2 separate regions of the Homo sapiens genome follow, and region 1 is linked to region 2. The links come from fine-mapping of genetic effects on gene expression. A gene starts in region 2. The other region holds a variant in brackets. All regions are shown on one strand. Distances are between the middles of the regions.

Region 1 (4,000 bases), 28 kb before region 2:
TGAGCTGAGATCGAACTACTGCACTCCAGCCTGGGCAACAGAGTGAGATCCTGTCTCAAAACAAACAAAAACAGAAATCAGATCATACCCTTCCTTACGTAAAATCTCCACACCTCAAGGCTTCTCACCGCCTTTAGCATAAAGTCCAGCCCTGACCTTGGCCTCATGCCCAGAATCCTCCCCTCATCTACTCTCTCACCTCAGCTCCTTGCCCTTCAACCACACTGGCCTTCTTGCTGTTCCTCCAGTAAACCAACACTGCACCTTCCTCAGGCCCTTTGCACACTCTGTTCCCTCCGTCTGAAGGCTCTGCTTCCGGAAGTCCACCTGGCTAGCTCTTTCACCTCCTGCAGGGCTCTGCACAAATGTCACCTCCTCCGAGAAGCCCACCCTGAACACCCTGGTGAAAATATCCCAGCCCTGCCGCCCTCTAGCTCACCATCACTTTCTGAAGAGATCTTGATTTTTCTGTTTGCATGTTTATTGTTCATTTCCCACCTCTAGACCTAGGAATCGGGTCTATTTGTTCACCGCTTAGCGTACAGCAGAGGATAAGAAAAATGCACACGGAAGGACTGAGTAAATGCAGGACGGGGAGAGAGTTACTGTGCTCAGCCTTGTTGTATTCGTGGGCTGCACTTTGGGGCCTGAACTCAACTTTTTTTGTATTGTTTTCTTTTTGAGACGGAGTCTGTCTCTGTTGCCCAGGCTGGAGTGCAATGGCACAGTCTCGGCTCACTGCAACCTCCGCCTCCTGCATTCAAGCGATCCTCCTGCCTCAGCCTCCCAAGCAGCTGAGATTACAGGCGCCCGCCACCACGCCCGGCTAATTTTTGTATTTTAAGTAGAGACAAGGTTTCATCATGTTGGCCAGGCTGTTCTCAAACTCCTGACCTCAAATGATCTGCCCGTCTCGGCCTCCCAAGAGCCTGTTGCCGCACCCAGCCTAATTTTTGTATTTTAAGTAGAGATGGGGTTTCACTATGTTGGCCAGGTGGTCTCCAACTCCTGACCTGAAGTGATCTGCCCGTCTCCGCCTCACAAAGTGCTGGGATTATAGGCGTGAGCTACTGCGCCTGGCCTCTGAATTTAACTTCATCCCTATGATTTGGGAAAGGGATGTAAAAAGATAAGAAACACAATCTAAGCATTGATTCCAGTGAGTTCAGGTCTAATGATAATGATAATATCAGCAAACACCTATAGTGCACCGGGCACTGTTCTAAATAAATAAATAAATGTTCTGAGTGGACTAACTAGTTTAATTCTTTTTTTTTTTTTTGAGACGGAGTCTCGCTCTGTCGCCAGGCTGGAGTGCAGTGGCATGATCTCGGCTCACTGCAACCTCCGACTCCCAGGTTCAAGCGATTCTCCTGCCTCAGCCTCCCAAGTATCTGGGACTACAGGCGCGTGCCACCACGCCCAGCTAATTTTTGTATTTTTTGTAGAGACCAGGTTTCACCATGTTGGCCAGGATGGTCTCGATCTCCTGACCTTGTGATCCGCCTGCCTTGGCCTCTGAAAGTGCTGGGATTACAGGCATGAGCCACCGTGCCCGGCTTACTAGTATAATTCTTGTAACAACCTTATGATCATTACAGTGGGGATACTCTTGTTATCCTCATTTTACAGAGGAGGAAACAGAGGTTCAGAGAGGCTGAGTAACTTGCCCAAGGTCACAAAGCCAAGAAGGGGAAGAGCAAAGATTTGAGCCCCATCAGTCTCACCCCAGAATCCAGAAATACTGCATCCCAGAAAATATCCCAAGGAGCCTGCTCCTGGGAGGAGGAGTCCACTTCCACCCTCAGTGACCTCCGCCCTCCAAGCTGACCCACCCAGGGCTGACCTCTGGGACTGAATGAATGAACCTGGACCCCTTGCCATCTTTGAGCATCCTCAGGTCCCCAGCGGCCCAACCCCCACCCCCGGCCCGAGTCTGCGCTGACCCTGCCTTGAGCTGAGTGAGCGCTTCCTCTACGCGGGGCTGGTTGTAGCGCACCATGTAGCTGTGCATGTCGGGATAGTTGCTGCGGATGTTCTTCTCCGTGGAGCCGTTGGGCACGGTCCCAAACTTCAGGGGCGGGTACTGCTCCTGGGGCCTCTGGAACTGGGGCAGAATGGGGAGTGATTAGGGCACCCTCCGCAGGGACATCCCTAACATAAATCACCCATTCTGAGACACACC[C/T]GCTATCTGGCAGACACCCCAGTCCCAGGAGTGTTCAATATTTCTCAACACTCGCTCACTACATTAGGGAATGCTTTTCCACTCCCACCCAGCACACACGGTTGCAGACACGTGATCCAAAAGTTCACGAGAAGCCTCCCTGAGGCCCCTGATGTGCCAGGTGTTAAGTCTTCACTTACTGAATCGCGGGAGGTCCTGGGAGTAGAGGCTGGCATGGCAGGAGCTGGGAGCTGTTGCTATTTACCAATCCGTTCAGAAATAGTTCACTTTTTTTTTTTTAAACGGAGTCTTGCTCTTGTTGCCCAGGCTGGAGTGCAATGGCACACTGTCAGCTCACTGCAACCTCCGCCTCCCAGGTTCAACTGATTCTCCTGCCTCAGCCTCCCGAGTAGCTGGGATTACAGGCACATACCACCATGCCCAGCCAGTTTTGTATTTTTAGTAGAGATGGGGTTTCTCCATGTTGGTCAGGCTGGTCTCGAACTACCAACCTCAGGTGATCCGCCCGCCTTGGCCTCCCAAAGTGCTGGGATTACAGGCATAAGCCACCGCGCCCAGACAACTAAAACAAGTTTTGTAAAACCAAACTTATACATAAGATGCAGGCAACTATTCTATTCTACTCCATTCCATTAAAAAATGCTTATTGCAACCCATCAAACTGATTTCTCAAGCCTCTAATAGGTCATGACACCCAGCTAGTTAATCACTTTAGTCTCAAAGTATGCTCTGCAAACCACCAGTCCCTCAACAAACGGTGATTGCAGTGAGATGTGTACAGGAATGGAGAGAGTGAGCATTTAGAGTGATTTGACAGAATTCTTTTTCGTCTGTTGAATCTAATAAATAAAAATGTGAGTTTGGCTTTTTTTTAGGCAGAGTCTCGCTCTGTCACCCAGGCTAGGAATCAGTTCTATTTGTGGCGTAATCATGGCTCACTGTAACCTCCGCCTCCCGGGTTCAAGCGATTCTCCTGCCTCAGCCTCCCAAGTAGCTGGGACTACAGGCACCCACTACCACGCCTGGCTAATTTTTGTATTTTTATTAGAGACGAGGTTTCACTATGTTGGCCAGGCTGGTCTCGAACTCCTGACCTCAGGTGATCCACCCACCTCGGCCTCCCAAAGTGCTGGGATTACAGGCGTGAGCCACCGTTCCTGGCCAGGTTTGACTTTTGTCTGTCTTGGTTTTAGATCTTATTTTACTTTTCTAATAATTCATTTCCGTTGAATTTTACAAAAGCATTGTCTGCAATGGACTAGCAGTTTTTTGTTTTTTTGAGACAGAGTCTAACTCTGTCGCGCTGGCTGGAGTGCAGTGGGGCGATCTCGGCTCACTGCAAGCTCTGCCTCCTGGGTTCACGCCATTCTCCTGCCTCAGCCTCCCGGGTAGCTGGGACTACAGGTGCCTGTCACCACGCCCGGCTAATTTTATGTACTTTTAGAAGAGACGGGGTTTCACCGTGTTAGCCAGGATGGTCTCGATCTCCTGACCTCGTGATCCGCCCGCCTCGGCCTCCCAACGTGCTGGGATTACAGGTGTGAGCCACCGCGCCCAGCCTTAGAAGTTTCAAAAATTAATCCTTCCTCACAGTTTGAGAGAAGCACTGGTTCTAGAATATCCTATTTGACACAACTGCCCCTAGAACATTCAGGGACACCCTCTTCCCTAGGAATATTTTAAATAGCTCATCGTGAACCGTGTTCTTTCTTCATCCACAACATTCCATTCTACCATTCTGGAATTCTCCTTGGGAAGAGACCCCTTCCCGCCCTCCCCCCACCCCTCTCACCCCCGCCCCCCGCAAGAATCCCC
Region 2 (4,507 bases):
CACAGCCTGTCCCCAAGCGGGGAGGAGGAGGAGGGTGCCAGAAATTCCTAGGGTGTCCCTGTCTTCATTGCCCCCCACAGCATCCAACAGAGAAGAGAGGAGCGGCCACTTCGATCAACAGCTCCCCCCACAACCTCGAGTTGTGCTGCAGACGGCATCCCGTTTCCTCCCCCCTCACCTCCCAACACACACACACAACATCGGTCTCTCCCCACCCGAATCCTGATGCTTGGAAGAGGCTGGAAGGGTGTTCCAGAACCTTGAGGAAGGGGTGGGAGCTTGGGGCGAGGGGTGCTGGGGGCCTGGATGCCCTCAAGGTCCTTGGCGGGGGTATTAATAGCAGACTCATAGCTCTGACATGGGAGGGGAGAGCGAGAGGAGAGAGGGAGAGGACCGGCTCGCGATGGGGGGACTGATGCAGGGAGGGGGGTACAGGGAGAAGGTGAGATAGAGAGATGGAGGCACAGGGATATGGGGCATCAGGTATGTGGGGATGGGGAGAGGGAGCCAAGTGTCAGAGAAATGGGGGCGTGAAAGGTCTGAGGTGTAGGGACTCAGGAAAAAGGGGCTCAGAGAGGGAGAGAGAGAGGGTGGAGGAGAGTCCCTGAGGGACAGGGGAGCTAGGTGGGGGTCAAGACCCCTGCCCACCGTTCAAACCCCCTCCCTCCACGAGGCTTCTTGCCAACTTCCTCTGTCCTAGATTTGGGGGTCCACATTCCCACCACCATCCCTGCATCCCCTGTCCCCGCCTTACCTTTTCATGACCCTGTTCTGTTGGGGGGATGGCGGGGGGGCCAGGACCGGAACCCGGCGTCCAGCGACCCCAAGATTCCGAGGAGGGCTCAGAGAGCCGATGTCGGGGGGCAGGCCCCGGGGCGGCGGCAGTGGTGGTGGCGGCAGCAGCGGCAGCCCGGACCTCCTGTCTGTCCCTGGCTCCGTCTCTCCTTCCTCTTCCTTGGTCCTGTCCTGCCCTGTCTCTCCCCCAAGGTTGCGGCCACCTGGACTAGGCGAGGACGTGGCTACACATGTTGCTCTGGAAGTTGGGCCCCGGACATTGCAGAGGCTGTCGGGGTGTCCTCTTGCCGCCCCGACCCCGTGGGGATCCCCCCTCCGCCCACCCGGGGTGCCCCCCTCTGCCGCTTCAGCCCCGGCTCCTCCCCCCTTTCCATGTGTCCAGTCCCGCCTCTCCCTGGCTCACTCGCACCCCCGCTTTGTGCCCTCAGCCCCCCCACCCCCCCTTCCAGCGTCTGTGTCTATCTGTCTGTCTGGGTCACCTCTGAAGCTAGTGGCTGGTGTGTGCGTGTGAGGAGCGGGAGATTGCCTGCTTGGGGAACTGCTTGCCCCTTCCTCGCTTGGCCACCTCTAGACCCCCCCTTGACTCCCCCACTCTCAAACACAGGCAGAAACACACATACACTCACGCACACACGCACGATCTCACTTCCCTGGGATTCCCCCTCAACACCCCCAGAGCTTGAGGAGGGACACACACACAGACACACACACACAGAGTGGGGGGTCTAATGGGGGCCAGGCTGCCACTGCTGATAGGGGCTGTTTGGACAGACAGGAGGACACAGGCAGCCGGGGACGCCCAGACGCCTGGCCGGACGCAGGCAGGAGGCACAGAACCCAGGTACACACCATCCATCTGGGTTTGGGGGGGCCGGGGGGAAGGAGCGGGAGCCCCACGACACCCAGGCAGGCAGCTCAGGGTCGGTACAGACAGACAGACCCCTCCCTCCCTCCGCCGCCGCAGCGCTTACAGACACACCCCCCCTCCACCAGCCAGCCCCAGACACCCGGACACACAGATCCTCACCGGGCAGATGGCAGACGCTCGAGAGACCCCTGGGGGCCGGGCCGACCTACCCAGGCAACACCCCCAGCAGGCACCGGTGGCCGAGGGAGGCTGCGGGAGGCTGCGGGCGAGGGTGGCGGCGGCGGCCGCGGCTTGGAGGAGCTGGAGCGGGAGGGACTCACACACTCGCTGTGTTCTCGCACACACACACTCACTCGGGATGCGATTAACATTCAGTCCCCGTCTGCCACTGCCGGGAGACCCACAGCCCCCCCTCCTGGCCTCCCTGGGGACCCCTTCTCCTGCCAGGCTTGGGGAGGGGGCCGCCCCCCACCCCTAGCTACCAGCCTCTGCCTTCCTCCTGGGACAAGGGAGTGAGGGGCTGAAAATAAAAAGGGAGGAAGAAGTCAGGCTGGGGACAGGCAGGCAGGGACTCAGAACCCGGTATGGAGACACCAGCTTCAGAGCTAGACTCCAGGGCTGGGGGTTGCTGCCCTCTGCCCCCGCCCTGCCTTGAGGCTCTGGAAACAGGAGGCCTTTCCCTGACTTCAGTGTTCGCCACACTAAGACCCAAGCTGTGGCTTTTATTGCCCCAGAAGGCCAGGCCTGAAAACCAGGTCTCGACCCTGGTCCCAGGAGTCCCACCCCCCAGCCCCTCCTCCCTCAGACCCAGGAGTCCCCTTCTCTACTGGGACCCAGGAATTTGGGGACCGCCTCCAAGTCGGAGTCTCTTTTAAGGACTCAGTCATCCCGACTCTCCCCCGTACAAGCCACCCTCAGGGACCCAAGACTCGTGGATGTCACCCTTGGGCACCCCGTCCTTCCAGCCCTCTGAAGAAATCAACACGCCTGCACCCCTTCTTTTATTGAGGGACCCTGGCCTCCATCATCTGTGGGTACCCCATCATCCGGAAGGGAAGCCACGTCTGTCCCCTCATAGATGCAGGAGTCCAGACCACAGGCTGTTCCCCGGGGGTCCCACACCCAGATGCCCAGCATTCCCCTCCTGCTAGAGGGCTGGGCCCGGCACTTTTATAAAGCCACCCGTGGGGCTCTGGGGTAGAGCGTGGGGCAGGACACCGGGGCCTCTGAGGGTGGAAGAGGGTGTGTGTGTGTGGGCAGGGCAGAAACTCTGGAGCAGGGGGGAAGCCAGGGCCAGGGGCTCCTGAGGTAGTTTGGGTCAGAGTTTTGGCCTTGAGCCTCCTGGGTGAGGCTCCTGTTTCCTTCATCCTCAAGGTCTGGGAGAACAGGGTGAGGTGCACATTCCTGAAAAAGAAGAGAATCAGGGCCTAAATCTGTGGGTCGTAAAGGGAGAAACTGTAGATCTAGATTCTTAAGGTTAGGATGTTTGATCCATAAGATGGTGGGGGTGGGACCCTAAGTTCCAAGGAACAGCGTCCTAGGAGGGAAAAGGGCTGGGGCCCTGAACTCCTGGGTCTGAGGGAGGAGGGGCTGGGGCCCTGGACCCCTGGGTCTGAGGGAGGAGGGGCTGGGGCCCTGGACCCCTGGGTCTGAGGGAGGAGGGGCTGGGGCCCTGGACCCCTGGGTCTGAGGGAGGAGGGGCTGGGGATCTGGACTCCTGGGTCTGAGGGAGGAGGTGCTGGGGGTCTGGACTCCTGGGTCTGAGGGAGGAAGGGCTGGGGGCCTGGACTCCTGGATCTGGGGGAGGAGGGTCTGGGGGCCTGGAGTCCTGGGTCTGAGGGAGGAGGCTGGGGGCCTGGACTCCTGGGTCTGAGGGAGGAGGCTGGGGGCCTGGACTCCTGGGTCTGAGCGAGGAGGAGCTGGGCCTGGACTCCTGGATCTGAGGGAGGAGGGGCTGGGGGTCTGGACTTCTGGGTCTGAGGGAGGAGAGGCTGGGGGTCTGGACTCCTGGGTCTGAGGGAGGAGGGGCTGGGGACCCAGACTTCTGGGTTTGACGAACGGGCTGGGGCCTTGAGTCCTGGGTCTAGGGGAGGAAGTAGGTGGGGTATCTTTCTTGTCTTCTGGGGGATTGGAGTTAGAGTGCCTGAAAGCTGCAAAAGCTAGCAGCTGAGCCTCCGGGTCCCTGCAGGATTTTTCAAGCTCAGAGGGCAGTCTCTACATCCCTGCAAGGGCTGAGGCTGGTGTACTGGACTGCGTCTCTTCCAGAGACACAGACTGCCTGGGCGAACCGGTGCTGGATTTGGCACTTTCCGAACCCTGCGACCCTCCCAAGTTCCTATGGGGCAGCTTTGGGGGTGCGTTTAGCGCCGCCACGGCAAAGCAGGAGGTGGGCGATAGGGGGCGCCGGGGATCCAGGCCCCGCCCTCGGGGGCGGAGCCTCTCCTCCCGGACTCCTCCCCCTCTCGCTCTCCTCCCTCTTCCCGGCTCCAGCTCCGCCGCCAGCTCCAGCCTTTGCTCCCCCTCCCAAAGTCCCCTCCCCGGAGCGGAGCGCACCTAGGGTCCCTCTTCCGTCCCCCCAGCCCAGCTACCCGTTCAGACCAGCAGCCTCGGGGGGCACCCCCCCGCCAGCCTGCCTCCCTCCCGCTCAGCCCTGCCAGGGTTCCCCAGCCATGAATCTCTTCCGATTCCTGGGAGACCTCTCCCACCTCCTCGCCATCATCTTGCTACTGCTCAAAATCTGGAAGTCCCGCTCGTGCGCCGGTGAGAGGCCCACCAGGGCTGGCGAAGGAGAGAGATTGCGGGCGGGGGTTGGGGGACGTCGCAGGACTCAGGAAGGGTTTGGGG

Alleles and levels. Alleles are on the strand shown, and positions count from the first base shown. SD is a standard deviation of normalised expression in the study named.
For the expression in subcutaneous fat of the gene that starts at base 2,023 in region 2, C is the high allele of the variant in region 1 and T is the other (moderate effect, 0.53 SD a copy in FUSION).

What was found. PIP is the estimated chance that this variant, and not a neighbour inherited with it, causes the effect.
Region 1: its variant is the best candidate, but not a certain one, in a credible set for the expression of GRIN2D in subcutaneous fat (FUSION, PIP 0.88).

Annotation. Positions count from the first base shown.
Region 1 is chr19:48,419,892-48,423,891 of GRCh38, reverse strand. It overlaps GRIN2D (glutamate ionotropic receptor NMDA type subunit 2D), which reads right to left. Exons shown (of 14, transcript NM_000836.4): 11 at 1,947-2,107. Among named protein-coding and RNA genes, the nearest start is that of GRWD1, 24 kb to the left of the region's middle. The variant C/T (reference allele first, on the strand shown) is at 2,186.
Region 2 is chr19:48,391,184-48,395,690 of GRCh38, reverse strand. GRIN2D (glutamate ionotropic receptor NMDA type subunit 2D) reads right to left here and starts at 2,023. Exons shown (of 14, transcript NM_000836.4): 1 at 1,823-2,023; 2 at 755-1,033. KDELR1 (KDEL endoplasmic reticulum protein retention receptor 1) reads left to right here and starts at 4,140. Exons shown (of 5, transcript NM_006801.3): 1 at 4,140-4,423. The coding sequence starts at 4,333. RefSeq lists a silencer at 3,984-4,303.